Linked DNA regions of Homo sapiens: region 2 is linked to region 1. Evidence: fine-mapped expression QTL. Tissue or cell type: whole blood. Region 1 holds a variant in brackets; the other region holds the start of a gene. All regions are shown on one strand. Distances are between the middles of the regions.

The links. PIP is the estimated chance that this variant, and not a neighbour inherited with it, causes the effect.
Region 2: NINL starts here. The variant in region 1 is fine-mapped to the expression of NINL in whole blood (INTERVAL, PIP 0.95).

What each region holds. Positions count from the first base shown.
Region 1 is chr20:25,991,490-25,999,596 of GRCh38, forward strand. No RefSeq gene overlaps it. Among named protein-coding and RNA genes, the nearest start is that of LINC01733, 40 kb to the left of the region's middle. RefSeq lists a silencer at 7,884-8,068. The variant TAC/T (reference allele first, on the strand shown) is at 3,692.
Region 2 is chr20:25,582,292-25,590,398 of GRCh38, forward strand. NINL (ninein like) reads right to left here and starts at 3,240. Exons shown (of 24, transcript NM_025176.6): 1 at 3,164-3,240. RefSeq lists a silencer at 3,175-3,304.

The sequences.
Region 1 (8,107 bases):
GACCGGTATTTTCGGAGGGTGGACAACCAGGAAGAAACCTCAGGAGCAAGAAACCTCAGGCAGATCGCAAGGGAGGCAGCGCGAGATGCCAGCCTCAAGCCAGGATTTGCGGAGGGTCGATGAGGCCCCTCTCCCAATCTTCACTTCACCAGCCACCACCCCAGTCCCTGCAGCCGCCGCTCTGCCGTCATTTATTTTATTATTATTTTTTAATAGTCGGAGTCTCACTCTGTCACCCAGTCTGGAGTGCAGTGGTGGGATCTCAGCTCACTGCAAACTCTGCCGCCTGGGTTCAAATGATTCTCTTGCCTCGGCCTCGCGAGTACCTGGGATTAGAGGGATTAATCAGAGTCGAGGCTAAAACCAGTCCTGGCCAGGGCATCAACAGGATGGTCTCTGGAGGCCGGAATTCACGGAGGGTCATCCAAGAGGAAGAAACCGCGGGCAGAGGGCCGAAGAAGCAGGGCGGGGTCCCAGCCTCAGGCCTGCATGGACCGTGTGCCAGTGAGTCTTTTCAAAAAAGGAGAGTTTTGCTTGTGTGTCCATGAGCTGCTCTCTCACTGATGGGTCGTAGTTGCGGAGAGCAGAACACGGCAGCTTCAGGGGCTGCCTGGGGGTGAGTGTTACCGTGCCACTGCCCTATGTCTTTTTGCGTTTGTGTGTGTGCGTAAGTCTCTCTCTTATTTCTCTCTCTCCTTTCTCGGTCTTTCGCTCTGTGACCGTCTGTGTGTGCGTGTGTGTGTTGGGACACATGTGCCCTGTGTGCCAGAGGGCGGTATCTTGTACGTCAGCCTTTCTTCTGGTCACCCTCTCCCCGCGTCTCTCCCTGGGTCTTGTGGCCGGTTGTCAGTCGTTTTTCCGGTGGTTCCAGTTTGAGTTTGTGAAGGTCTGGATGAGATGGGGAGCTGCGTCTATCTCATAAGGATTTAAATCACCTCCCCACCCTGAGAGACCTGTTTTCTAGGATTAAGGCCTCCACCCCCGAGCCAAGGATAAAAGCCTCACCGGAGAGCTCATTGTCTACCTGCAGGAGCTGTGTAGAGCGACATCAGAAAAGATTGTTCTCATTTGTCTCTCTCTTTCATCTCCTTAAGAAATCTAGCCACAGGGTAACACAGGTTTTGAGAGGATCAGAACAGGACGTGGCAAGGATCTGTGAGTGTGCAGGCTGTGTTTCACATATCATTAAACATAGTCCAGTGAGGGTTCTGCAGATAGCTGGCATTTAGGTTTGTTTTATTGAATCAAGGAAAAGAAAAAATGCCGAGTAAAAATGACACAACTTGCCTACCAGCCCATCTGAGTGTTACAAATTTAATAGTAATTTTAATTTATCTTCTCATGTAAAGGTCCTTGGCAGTGATACCTAATTTCCTAAGATAGCCTTGCTTTATATTGTTTGATTAAGATGTCATGCATATCAGAGAATCTGAAAATTCTTCCCAATGCCGTCGACATACGTGATTAATCACATTACCAAAATAACATACCAAAACAAACAACAGAAAATTATTTGTTACTTAGTTCCTTCAAATTTGTTTATCTAATTGGTGGTTCCTTCATGCACAAAACGTTTCATGTGTGTCTGGCACTCTTCTGGTCACAAATTTCATCTTAAGTAACCTAAGTATTGAAATGCTTGTGCTCTTTGATTGATTTTTCCTACATAAATACTTTGATAAAAAGCTACATTGAGGCTGGGCTTAGTGGCTCACACCTCCAATCCCAGCTCTTTGGGAGCCTGAGGCCAGTGGATCAGGAGATCAGGAGATCAAAACCATCCTGGCCAACATGGTGAAACCTCATCTCTTCAAAAATACAAAGAATTAGCCAGGAGAGGCCAGGTGCTGGATCATGCCTGTAACCCCACACTTTGGGAGGCTGAGGTTGGCAGATCACCTAAGGTCAGGAATTTGAGACCAGTCTGCCCAACATGGCAAAACCCTGTTTCTACTAAAAATACAAAAAATTAGCCAGGTGTGGTGGCAGGCGCCTGTAATCCCAGCTACCCAGGAAGCTGAGGCAGGAGAATCGCTTGAACCCAGGATGCAGAGGTTGCAGTGAGCTGAGATCATGCCACTGCACTCCAGCCTGGGTGACAAGAGTGAAACTCTGTCTCAAAAACAACAACAAAAAAAAAAAAAAGAAAGAAAGAAAAGAAACCTTGTCTATACTAAAATTACAAAAATTAGATCCTGAAGGTCACATCTGAATGAGAAAGACATTGTTTGCCTCAAATTGTCTGACTCCAAGGAATAGTGCAGACTGGACAAGTGAGGTGACTCACACCTATAATCCTAGCACTTTGGGAGGCTGAGGCTGGTGGATCTCCTGATGTTAGGAGCTCAAGACCAGCCTAGCCAAAATGGCAACACTCTGTTTCTACTAAAAGAACAAAAATTAGCCAGGCGTGGTGGTGCACATCTGTAATCCCAGCTTCTCAGGAGGCTGAGGCAGGATAATCACTTGAACCTGGAAGGCAGAGGTTGTAGTGAGCTTAGATTGCACCACTGCACTCCAGCCTGGGTGACAGAGTGAGACTCCATCTCAGAAAAAAAAAAAAAAGTATGTAAGTCACTAATATATCAAAGAAAACAACCATTCATGTATTGTAAATAAATACTCAACCAAGACAAAAAGACATGTCACATGTTATGGGAAAAGACTGTAATGATGGTGAGAGAAAAACTGTGACCCTTGAATATAAGACAGAAAAAAATCAGGGCACGATGTTAAGGAATTGGAAATAATTCTCTATATTAAAGGAATACAAGAAACAGAAAGAGAGGAGAGAGAGACACGATAGTCACACACTGCAGGGGTTTGGGGTAGATGGGAATCAAGGAGGCAGAGAGAGCAGTGGGAATGTACATAAAATCACCCTCCAGAGCTGTGCTGTCCAACAAGGCTGCTGAACACTTGAAAGATGGCTAGTCCAACCTGAGAAATGCTGTAAGTGGAAAACACATTTAAAAAAATTTCTGAATACTCAGTATAAAAGAAAGAATGGGCCGGTGTGGTGGCTCACACCTGTAATCCCAGCATTTTGGAAGGCCAAGGCAGGAGGATTGCTTGAGCCAGGAGTTTGAGACCAGTCTGGGCAACACAGCAAGAGCTCATCTCTTCAGAAAAAAAAAAAATTAGGCCAAGTGCAGTGGCTCACACCTGTAATCCCAGCACTTTGGGAGGCCAAGGTAGGTGGATCACTTGAGCTCTGGAGTTTGAGACCAGCCTGGACAACATGCTGAAACCCTGTCTTAACAGGTTTTTTTGTATTTTAAAAATACAAAAATTAGTCAGGCGTGGTGGCACATGTTTGTGGTCACAGCTACTTGGGCGGCTGAAGTGGGAGTATCATTTGAGCCCTGGAGGTCGAGGCTGCAGTGAGCCGACATTGTGCCACTGCACTCCAGCCTGGATAACAGAGTGAGACCCTGTCTTAAAAAAAAAAATTAGCTGGGCATGGTGGTGGTCAGGAACAGCCTGACCAACATGGAAGAGCACTGTTTCTACTAAAAATACAGAAGTAGCCAGGTGTGGTGGCACATACCTGTAATCCCAACTCCTCAGGAGGCTGAGGCAGGATAATCATTTGAACCAGGATGGCAGAGGTTGCAGTGAGCTGAGATCGCACCACTGCCCTCCAGCCTGGCAACACAGCCAGACTCTGTCTCAAAAAAAAAAAAAAAAA[TAC/T]ACACACACACACACACACACACACACACACACACACACAATTTTGGAGCGAAGTTTCAAAATAAATCAGTAAGCACCACCCACCAGGTTTATCTTTATGCAAAGTGCCCCCTCTGCACATGCAGGATTAAATGAACCTTGAAAATATTATGCTAAGTGGAAGAAGCCAGTCATGAAATATCACGTTATGTAATTCCATTTAAATAAAATGTCCAAAATACATGAATGCATAGAGACAGAAAGTAGATTAGTGGTGGCTCAAGGTTAGGGGAGTTGGGGGAAATGGAGGGATATGGGGTTTACTTTGGGGTAATGAAAATGATCTAAAATTTATTGTGATGATGTTTGCACAACTGTGCAAATATACTGAAATCATTGAATTTTACACTTTAAATGGGTGGCTTCTGTGATATGTTAATATTTCTTAATAAAACTTCAGAGAAAAAGAGTACCTGTGTGCCTCCAGAGTCCACATTTTTACACTTGATGATGAAATCAAGATATTGTTTCTTCTTCTTCTTTATTTTTATTTTATTTATTTTATGTTTTGAGACAGTCTCCTTCTGTTGCCCAGGCTGGAGTGCAGTGGCACGATTTCAGCTCACTGCAACCTCCCAGCTAATTTTTGTATTCCCAGTAGGGATTGTGGTTCACCGTGTTGGCTAGGCTGGTCTCGAACTTCTGACCTCAAATGAGTCCACCATCTTGGCCTCCCAAAGTGCTGGGATTGCAGGCATGAGCCACCACACCTGGCTCAAGACTTAGTTCCCATTGTTTCAGATGCCCTAGGACCATTTTATTCTACTTTAATTTCTGATGCATCGTCTCAGTGGAAATTTTACATTACTTCCCAAAGTATTTTACTCTTTTTAAGATCTTATCAGCTGAGTGCAGTGGCTCACACCTCTAACTGCAACATTTTGGGAGGCCAAGGTTGGAGGATCAGTTGAGCCCAGGAATTCAAGTCCAATCTCTGCAACATAGTGAGAAGCCCATCTCTACAAAAAAAAAAAAAAAATGTTTAATTAGGTGGGTATATTGTTGCATGCCTGTGGTCTCAGCCAGTAGGTAGGCTGAGGTGGGAGGATCACTGGAGCCCAGGAGGTTGAGGCTGCAGTGGCCATGATTATACCACTGCATTCCAGCAAAAATATTTTTAATTACATTTTTTAAGAAAACAAAATATACACTTACTGACTTGATACAAATGAATGACTTTTATAATCTACAGAAACCAAAAAAATAACAATAATAAAAACCCACAGCCATTCTTCTTATGTGAGACTCTGGTGTCTCTGAGTTGTAAGAATTGTGAATTATGATTAATAACAAATATGCATGACAAGGACCCAATAAGAGATAGGCATTGATAAATTGCAAATCACACTTACTGGAGTAAGGTCTTTAAAGTTGTACAAGAAAAAGAAAGAAAAAGAAAAGGCATTGAAAAACTGCATTGGCTACCAAAATGCTAAAGTTTACCTAAGTCCATTAATCAGCACACACACACACACACGCAATGGATGTGTAAAATGGTCAACATGGTATTCCATGAACGTATCCTCTTATAAATAGGTCTGTGGGGGTAAGAGATGAGGTTCTATAGATCCTGGAATCAGGGATGGGGAATCTGTGGGGTCCCTGGGGTGAGAGATGAGGGTCTGTAGATTAGTGATGGGTGGTCTTTTGGATAGTGATGAGATCCATGGAATCAATTCTTGTGGGTATGTAGGGTCAGTGATGAGGGAATCTGGTGTCAGTGGCGGGATGTGTGTGGAATCAGTGAGAGAGTGTGGAATCAATCTGTGAAGGCCAGATTTGTGGTGTCATCTCTCAGGCTGACACATCCTGACCTGTGTGACAATGGTGGAAATTCTATGGGGTCAGAGTGTGACAGTCAGTTCCTTGCCACTGGGTGTTCTGGGTCCGGCCAAGGGCACAGATTCCCTTACCTGATCCTGGCTGGAGAGGCCCTTCTCACGGACTCCTCATGTGAAAGATGGGTTGTCGGCGGTTTTGGTTTTTGTTTTATGGTGGGGGTGGGTGGGTTGGCTTTTCCTTTTGGGTTTGGTTTTGCCTCTTAGAGACCACAGACACATCCAGCTTTTAGGAAGACATTTTTGTCTGGGCGATCGCTAGTTCCTTTGGGCCAAGCCATCTAATGGGAATGAAGCTGACCATTCCCTCAGCGCAATTCAGATCTAGATGGTCGCTTTAAGGGGTCCACTCGGGGGCATGCAAGTGGGTTGTGGCTTTGAGTGGCAGGTGGGCGGGAAGAAACAACTAAGAAAGACACACGAGAGGTCCTCAGGCTTGATCTGTCACAGCTAGAAGAACAGCTTCCTTAACCCATCAGGCGCCAATGGGAGGTGCCTCTGGGCTGCAAGAGGCTGGCAGAGGGGGACTTCCAGACCCAGAAAGTCTGGGCACAGAAGCCTATTACTGCCAGACGCTGAGGAGTTGCCGTGGGAACCAAGGGCCTTTCGGGCCAGATCAGAGCCTTTCTCAGACAATTCTTTGGGTAACTGGCAAGCTCCTGTCCAGCGCACACCCCTATGAATGCTTAGTGTGCCATCTCGGGCAAGTCTTCTTTGGTCTGAGAGCCACTTGTTTCTTAAATCCCTGCGCTAATCTCGCCGTCTGCTCCTATGTAGCCCAGGCATTTGCCGCATGCTGGTCCTTTCTTTCCTGACAGGCGGGCAGTCTCCCTCCAGCTTCTGGGAGGACAGTTCAAATTATGGAGGAGGGGGTGCATGTAGGGCAGCAGTGCCCAGGGGAGTATGGGGGAGTTGGGGGAGCAGAGGCTCATTTTTCTTTATAGCTCAGATTCCCAAGCCTGTGACTTTGAGAATCTTTGTCTTCCTTGCAACATTTCAATCTGAGGCTCTTGTGGAGAGGGCAGAGTTGGAGCCAGATGGAAGAGTGGTGGGAGAGGAGTGGGTGGAGGGAACATGGAGAATGTTTCAGGTGGTGTCTTTATTTCTGGCACCTTACTTTGCCTACTGGAGTTTCCCAGTCTGTTCCAGACGCCCTCTCTAGACCCTGAGAGGGCCTGAGGAGGCATGTTAGTTGCCAGTGTGGTGGAGATGGAGTGCCGGGAGGTGGAGGTTGCAGTGAGCCAAGATCACGCCACTGCACTCCAGGCTGGGTGACACAGCGAGTCTCTGTCTCAATAAATAAATAAATAAATAAACAAACAAATGGAAGGGAAAAAACACAATATAAAAACCAAGTGATTCTAAAAGTAACAATATATCATAATGCCTAAATATGTGTAATTGGTGGGGCATGGTGGCTCCGATTATCATAATGCCTAAATTTGTGGGATTGGTGGGGTGTGATGGCTCCCACCTGTAATCCTAGCACTTTGAGAGGCTGGTGGATCACCTGAAGTCAGGAGTTTGAGACCAGCCTGACCAACATTGTGAAACCCTGTCCCTACTAAAAATAGAAAAAAATTAGCCAGGTGTTGTGGCGGACACCTGAAGTCCGAGCTACTAGGGAGGCTGAGGCAGGAGAATCACTTGAACCCAGGAGCAGAGGTTGTAGTGAGCCGAGATTGCCCCATTGCACTCCACCCTGGGTGACAGTGTGAGACTCCCTCAAAAAAAAAAGTTTGTGGGACCAATTCCAATCGAGTCCAGGGGTCTCAGTTGGCCAAGGCAGTCTCAAACTTCTGACCCCAAGTGATCTTCCTGTTTCGGCCTCCCAAAGTGCTGGGATTATAGGCGTGAGCCACCATGCCCAGCCTCCCCTCCTTTTCACTCAGGGATTTTAAATGTTTTATTTGCTCCATCTGTTATGTATGATTGCCTTGACGATTTCAGCTTGAATTAAAATTACATATTTTTGCCTGTGTTTATTAATATTTAAACATATTAAAATAATACATGTTCATAATGAAAATGAAACATTACAAATAAATACACAGGAAAGGCAGTATTCCCCTTCCAGCTCCACTCTTGAAATAACCAGTTAACAAGATGATGAACATCTTTCCATGATGTTCTCCAAGATTCATATAATTATTTGCAATCATACAATGGCATATACAGCTCAGGTGTGGTGGCTCACGCATGTAATTCCAGCACTTTGGGAGACTGAACCGGGTGGATCATTTGAGGTCAGGAGTTCAAGACTACCCTGACCAACATAGTGAAACCCCATCACTACAAAAAACACAAAAATTATCTGGGCGTGGTGGACGCTTGTATTCCAAGCTACTTGGGAGGTGGAGGCATGAGAATCACTTGAACCTGGGAGATGAAAGTTACAGGGAGCCGAAATTGCATTACTTCACTCCCACCTGGGCGACAGAGTGAGATTCCATCTCAATAAATAAATAAATAAATAAAGATAAAGAAAGAAAGAAAAAAAGAAAGATGAAAGAAACAAAGAAAAAAGGAAGAAAGAG
Region 2 (8,107 bases), 410 kb before region 1:
TGCTTAAGTCCTAACTATTCCTCTATAAAGTGCTTTCTTTCCAATTTGATGGAGTTAAATGTTATCTGAGGTCAGGTGTGGTGGCTCATACCTGTAATCCCAGCATTTTGGGAGGCTGAGGCAGGTGGATCACTTCAGCCCAGGAGTTGGAGACCACCCTGGGCAAGACTCCCGGCTCTACATTAAAAAGAAAAAATCTGAAGTCCAAGTTCCTTGGAGAAGGCTTGCTATTTTCTCATTCTACAAAAAAGAGTTATCCTCTAATTTTTATTGCACCTGAACTTTACATAAACACACATCCCACTTTTATTTGCCAATACAGATCAATTCAATCTGTCATCATTTAAACCACTAATGGATGATGTATAAGTCAAACAAAAGGGACAAGCATGAAAGTAGACTGCTTCTCTAACACCTGAACATTTTCCTTTTAATATACAAGCATTCTTGCACACAGTTCATAAAACTGCTAGGCTGCTGATTCAGTGTTCTGTTTAACAGATGAGTTTTAACTACTTAAAAAAAAAACAAACTCTGCTTTCTACAACTATCTGATCTTCGACAAACCTGACAAAAACAAGCAATGGGGAAAGGATTTCCTATTTAATAAATTGTGCTGGGAAAACTGGCTAGCCATATGCAGTAAACAGAAACTGGACTCCTTCCTTACACCTTATGCAAAAATTAACTCAAGATGGATTAAAGACTTAAATGTAAAACCCAAAACCATAAAAAACCTAAAAGAAAACCTAGGCAATACTATTCAGGACATAGGCATGGGCAAAGTCTTCATGACTAAACACCAAAAGCAATGGCAACAAAAGCCAAAACTGACAAATGGGATCTAACCTAAGAGCTTCTCCACAGCAAAAGAAACTCTTCAGAGTGAACAGGCAACCTACAGAACGGGGTAAAATTTTTGCAATCTACCCTTCTGACAAAGGTCTAATATCCAGAATATAGAAGGAACTTAAACAAATTTACAAGAAAAAAACAACCCCATCAAAAAGTGGCCAAAGGAAATGAACAGACACTTCTCAAAAGAAGACATTTATGCAGCCAACAACATATATTAAAAAAAAAGCTCATCATCACTGGTCATTAGAGAAATGCAAATCAAAACCACAATGAGATACCATCTCACATCAGTTAGAATGGTAATTATTAAAAAGCAAGGAAACAACAGATGCTGGAGAGGCTGTGGAGGAATAGGAACGCTTTTACACTGTTGGTGGGAGTGTAAATTAGTTCAACCATTGTGGAAGACAGTGTGGCGATTCCTCAAGGATCTAGAACCAGAAATAACATTTGACCCGGTGATCCCATTACTGGGTATATACCCAAAGGACTATAAATCATTCTACTATAAAGACACATAAACGTGTATGTTTATTGCAGCACTATTTACAATAGCAAAGACTTGGAACCAACCCAAATGCCCATCACGGATAGACTGAATAAAGAAAATGTGGTACAGATACACCATGGAATACTACGTAGCCATAAAAAAGAATGAGTTCATGTCCTTTGCAGGGACATGCATAAAGTGGGAAGCCATCATTCTCAGCAAACTAACACAAGAACAGAAAACCAAACACCGCATGTTCTCACTCATAAGTGGGAGTTGACAATGAGAACACATGGACACAGGGAGGGGAACATCACACACCTCACACATCGGGACCTGTCGGGGCGGGTGGGGGGCAAGAGGAGGGAGAGCATTAGGACAAATACCTAATGTATGTGGGGCTTAAAATCTAGATGACGGGTTGATAGGTGCAGCAAACCATCATGGCACATGTATACCCATGTAACAAACCAGAACGTTCTGCACATGTATCCCAGAACTTAAAGTAAAATAAAATTAAAAAACAAAAACAAAACAAAACAAAAACTTGGCCGGGTGCAGTGGCTCACGCCTGTAATCCCAGAACTTTGGGAGGCCGAGGCAGCTGGATCACCTGAAGGTCAGAAGTTCGAGACCAGCCTGGCCAACATGGTGAAACCCCCATCTCCACTAAAAACACAAAAAATTAGCTGGGCGTGTAATCCCAGCTACTCGGGAGGCTGAGGCAGGAGAATCGCTTGAATCCGGGAGGCAGAGGTTGCAGTGAGCCGAGATGGCGCCATTGCACTCCAGCCTGGGCAACAAGAGTGAAACTTCGTTTCAAAAACAGCAACAACAACAAGAACAACAACAAGAAGAACAAAAACTCTGCTTTTAAAAGTATTTTAAGTCCAGTGTGAAAAACCTAGAAGTCACAGCAAAGGCCGCTAAGAAACTTACCATTACTCATGACCCCTCTTACTACTGACCTTGAAAATCACTTGCCCTTCTCCAAGGCCCCGCCAGCTTCATGGGTCTCTTCCTGAACCTCCTCCCTAGTTCCAGGGCTTGGCCTAAGTCTCACAGAGCAGAAAGAAACGTGGCCACCCTTCCTCACGTGAGTCCTGTGCAAACATACAGCCCCACACAGAGCTCCTAACAATGGGGCATCAGTACCCAGGCACGATCGATGATTATGAACCCAACGCGATCAGAGACTCCCACATGGTGTGTGTGACTGCGCGCACAGGCGGGAGGAAAGGGGCGAATCTGCAAAACGAGTACAACAGATAAAATTCGCAACAGACTTCTACACCCTTTCAATCAACCGTCCCAAGCGCCACGAACGCGGGTCCCGCTCCGTGGGGGGCCGCAGCCACACTGGCAGGAGGGAATCCTGGGCCTCGACCAGACGCCGGCGGCGTCAGGAGAAACGGCCCGCGCTGGGCAGGCGGCGGGCACCGCGTAGCTCATTACCACGGGGGGCCCCGGCCAAGGCCGCCCGCCTCAGGCCGAGCCTTGGGGCTGTGCTGGACCCGGGCCCTCGTTCGCACGGCGCCCGCGCCGCCGCCGTCGGGAAACCGGGTTTTCAAGCGTTCGGCCCAGCGGGCGCTGTATTTTAGGGCGTGACCCCCGCCCCGCCCTCGAGGGCGACCGGAAGAGCAGGCACCACAGCAGATGCGCCGAGTCTGCGCCCCGCACCGCGAGGAGCACCCGAGGCCGCGCTCCCGGAGCCGGGTCTGGTGACTAAGGCGCGGGTCGCGACGCAGGGGCGGCCCCGGACTCTCGACCCCACCAGCCGCCTGAATGTCCCGCCGGACGCCCGGGCCGGCTCACCTGGGAGGCGCCTCCGCCGTCCGCCCGCGCGGGGCCAGGAGCGCGGCACCACCCCCGTACCGCCGGCCGCTCTTTGTGTCTGGAGGCCGCGACGCAACACTCCTCCCGGCCTCGAGGCACCGCCCCCTCGGTGTCCCGGCGCAGTGGGCGAACAGGGGGCGGGGCGAGCGAACGGGAGAGGGGGCGGGTCGGGTCCGGGATTGCGGGGCGGGGTGGGGGCAAGGCGGCCTCCGCAAATCTCAGGGCGGCTCTGGCCAGTTTGGAGCCTGGGGTGACCCTTGGAGCTGACCTCGCTGGTCCCTGTCGGAGCCCTGCGCGCTGCGGAGCTTGGCGGTTCGCAGCTCTCGGGGTAGCATCTTCTGGAAACAAGCCCGGAGGCCGGCCAGGCAGGGGTAATACCCCAAACCCACCACTGAGGAAACCGCGACTTAAAACCTAGGTCGTCACGTTTCCACCGCATATTAAATCAATACGGGTTGAGCATCCCTAATCCAAACATCTGAAATCCGAAATGCTTCAAAATCTGAAAGTTTTTGAGCGCTGACCTGATGCTCAAAGGAAATGCACATTGGAGCACTTCTTTTTTCTTCTTTTAACTTTCTTTTCTTTTGAGAAAGGCTGTCACTTCTGCTGCCCAGCCTGGGATGCAGTGGCGCGGTCATGGCTCACTACAGCCTCGACTTTCCCGGCTATGGCGATCCTCCCGCCTCAGCGTCCCAACCCCCAGTAGCTGGGACTGCAGGCATCTGCCACCATGTCCGCTAATTTTTGTATTTTTAGCACAGAGTCTCACTGTGTTGCCCAGGCTGGTCTCGAACTCCTAGGCTCAAGGGATGGATCCACCGCCTCGGCCTCCCAAAGTGCTGGGATTACAGGCGTGAGCCACCGCGCCCGGCCTGTATTTTTTTAAGAGAGGAGGCTTCACCATGTTGCCCAGGCTGGTCTGGAATTTCTGGCCTCAAGTGATCCTCCCACCTTGGCCTCCCATAGTGCTGGGATTACTGGCATGAGCCACCGCACCTGGCCTCATTGGAGCATTTCTAATTTTGGATTTTCAGATTAGGGGTGTTCAATTGGTATAATGCAAATATTCCAAAATCTGAAATCCTAAATGCTTCTGGTGCCAAGCATCTCGGTTAAGGGATATTCAACCTGTATATATTTATCGAACACCTACTAGGGCCAGGCATTGTCCTAGGGGCTGCCAACAGCGGTGCAAAAAATCCCTGGCCCTTATAGAGTTTACACAGAAAACAATTTAAAAACGTAAATACCCGGCCGGGCATAGTGGCTCATGCCTGTCATCCCAGCACTTTGGGGGGCTGAGGCAGGCGGATCACCTGAGGTCGGGAGTTCAAGACCAGCCTGACCAACATGGAGAAACCCCGTCTCTACTAAAAATACAAAATTAGCCGGGCGTGATGGCATATGCCTGTAATCCCAGCTACTCAGGAGGCTGAGACAGGAGAATCGCTTGAATCTGGGAGGCGGAGGTTGTGGTTATCAAGCCACTGCACTCCAGCTTGGGCGACAGAGTGAGACTCCATTTCAAAAAAAGAAAAAAAAAAGTAAATACAGCCAGGCACGGTGACTCATGCCTGTAATCCCAGTAGTTTGGGAGGCCACTGTGGGCAGATTGCCTGAGGACAGGAGTTCGAGACCAGCGTGGCCAACATGGTGAAACCCAGTGTCTACTGAAACACAAAAAAATTAGCCAGTTGTGGTTAACGCGCGCCTGTAGTCCCAGCTACTCGTGAGGCTGAGGCACAAGAATTGCATGAACCCAGGAGTCGGAGGTTGCAGTGAGCTGAGATCTTGCCACTAGACTCCAGCTTGGGCGACAGAGCAAGACTCTGTCTCCAAAAAATAAAAATAAAAACATAAATATACAAAAATGTCAGAGAGTTATATCAGAATTACAAAATGAGCTACAGTACACTGTAGCATGAGAAAGGTGCATATACTTTGTAGGAACTCCACTTTAGAGGATGTGAGGATCAGAGGCAAAATGGGGTGAGAAGGAAGCAGGATGAAAGACAGGCTATGGGGGAACGGAGTTTCCAAGGGCGAGTGAAATTTCCAAGTGCCTGCAAGTGCTAAACCCCATGCAGAGCAAAAGGCAAACACAGGGAGTGGTTCAGAGACGCTCATAGTGTGTTCTAGGCTGGGAGGTTTCTCTGACCTGCTGAATGTGCCCAGATACCTTTTGCTATGCCCATGACCTGTCCCAACCAGTGTGGGGCACAATGGCAGGACACACCGTGCAAAGGTGGTCCCTGTGGGATGCGCAGCCAAGACCCCGATGACTCCAGTTTATAACCCTGGATTCCCAGGGGTGCTCAGAGCCATGGGGGCTGCCATTGTGAAGAATGTCTTCTCTTCAGTGCTCCTGATGCTCTGCACGGGCTCCCACTCACTGGCTGGAGAATGAATTTGGAGTCAGAAGATGTGAATCATGCCACTTACTAGCTGTTTGACTGTGGATCACCCAGTCATGTAACATCTGTGATCTCAGTTTCATTTGCAAAATAGAAATGTAAAAATTACCCATTGCACAGGAGTGTACTGAATTTATTTGTTATTTTATTTCTTGAGACAGGATCTCAGTCTGTTACCCAGGCTGGAGTGTGGTGGTGTGATCACAGCTCACTGCAGCCTTGATCTCCTGGGCTCAAGTGATCCTCCCACCTCAGCCTCCCAAATAGCTGCATTACAGATGCACCCCCACACCTGGCTAACTTACTAATTTTTTGTAGAGATGGGGTCTATGTTGCCCAGGCTGGTCTTGAACTCCTGGGCTAAAATGATCCTCCCACTTTGGCCCCCCAAAGTACTGAGATTGCAGGCATGAGGCACCGTGCCCAGTTGAGCATACCGAATTTAAATGAGTTAATGTAGTGGTTCTTCATCAGAGAGAAGTGGGAAGACTAGGAGTTCTCCACTTTGACTACTTAAAAATTAAAAACACCAGTGCCTGCATCCTACCTCCAGACATTCCAATTTTATTGTCGTGTAGAGAAAACTCTCCACTCTCACACCGCACAACAGTCAACACAGAAGACCTATGACTAAATGTGTGTGGGGTTTTCTCCACACACTGAGCAGCAGACACCAGCTGGGCATCCTCTAATTCAGTTCTGTCACTACCTGGAGAGAGTGTCAGATCCCACAAGTTGAGGACTCAGTCCCCAAGACTCCTCACATACATCAGTTGCAAGGCCGGGCCTCTGCAGAACTTCTGACAGATCAGCTTCAAGTTGGGGTTCCCATGACCCCCTGACCCCCTGTTTGGTTTCGATTAATTTGCTACCTGTGAGTGGCTCACAGAACTCAGAGAAACGCTTATGTTCACTGGTTTATTTTTATTTATTTATTTTTGAGACGGAGTGTTGCTCTGTCGCCCAGGCTAGAGTGCAGTGGTGCGATCCCAGCTCACTGCAACCTCCGCCTACCAGGTTCAAGTGATTGTCATGCCTCAGCCTCCCAAGAAGCTGGCACTACAGGCATGCGCCACCACACCTGGCTAGATTTTTATATTTTTAGTAGAGACAGGGTTTCGTCCTGTTGGCCAAGCTGGTCTCGAACTCCTGACCGCAGGTGATCTGCCTGCTTTGGCCTCCCAAAGTGCTGGGATTACAGGCGTGAGCCACCATGCCTGGCCCACTGGTTTATTATAATGGATATTGTAAAGGACACAGGTGAAGAGACACATAGGGCAAGGTTTGGAGGAAGGGGCAGAGCTTCCATACCTCCCTGGGCACCACCCTCCAGGAACCTCCACTGTTCACCTACCCAGAAGTTCACTGAACCCTGTCCTCTTGGGGTTTTATGAAAGCTTCATGATATCAGCATTCCTTCTCCCAGGGAATAGGGTGAGACCCTCTCATGGGAGAGTCTTAAGACCTGCAATCGACGGCAGGGCGCGGTGGCTCACTCCTGTAATCCCAGCACTTTGGGAGGCCGAGGTGGGCGGATCACAAGGTCAGGAGATCGAGACCATCCTGGCCAACATGATGAAACACCATATTTACTAAAAATACAAAAATTAGCTGGGCGTGGTGGCACACACTTATAGTCCCAGCTACTTGGGAAGCTGAGGCAGGAGAACCGCTTGAACCCGGGATGCGAAGAAGTTACAGTGAGCCAAGGTCGCACCACTGCACTCCAGCCTGGGCAACAGAATGAGACTCCATCTAAAAATAAAATAAAAAAAAAAAAGACCCACAATCAGAAAGCCAGGAGGAGGTCAGGGGCCTGCCCATGAGGCCCAACACAACAATATAACAAAGGACTGTAGCAAGGGCTATGGGAGTCATGTGCCAGTAACTGTGGATGAAAACCAATGGATATCCTGACACCACAATTGTTCAGGAAAGAACCTTTGAGTCAATCTTGACTCTCTCTCTCATACCTTACAGCGACGTCATCACATCCTGATCGCTCTTCTTTTTAAAAACATTTTCTTGGCCAGGCGCAGGAGAGGCCGAGGTGGGTGGGTCACCTGAGGTCAGGAGTTCATGACCAGCCTGACTAACTTGGTGAAACCCCATCTGTACTAAATACAAAAGAAAAACAGCCGGGCATGGTGGCGCGTGCCTGTAATCCGAGCTACTTGGGAGGCTGAGACAGGAGAATTGCTTGTACCTGGGAGGTGGAGGTTGCAGTGAGCAGAGATCGCGCCATTGCACTCCAGCCTGGGCAACAAGAGCGAAAATCTGTCTCACAAAAAAAGAAACAACAACAAAAAAAACTTTTTCTTTTGAATTAATGTTATCTTTACAGAAAACTTGGAAACGTAGAAAAGAGAGGTTCCATATTCTTCTCACTCAGGTCCTGTAAATATCAGCATCTTACATATCCCTGTTTTTTTTTTTTAAAGTTTAAAAAACTTTATTAAGTATAATGTACACAAGAAAAGTATACATATCATAAGTGTACAGTTTG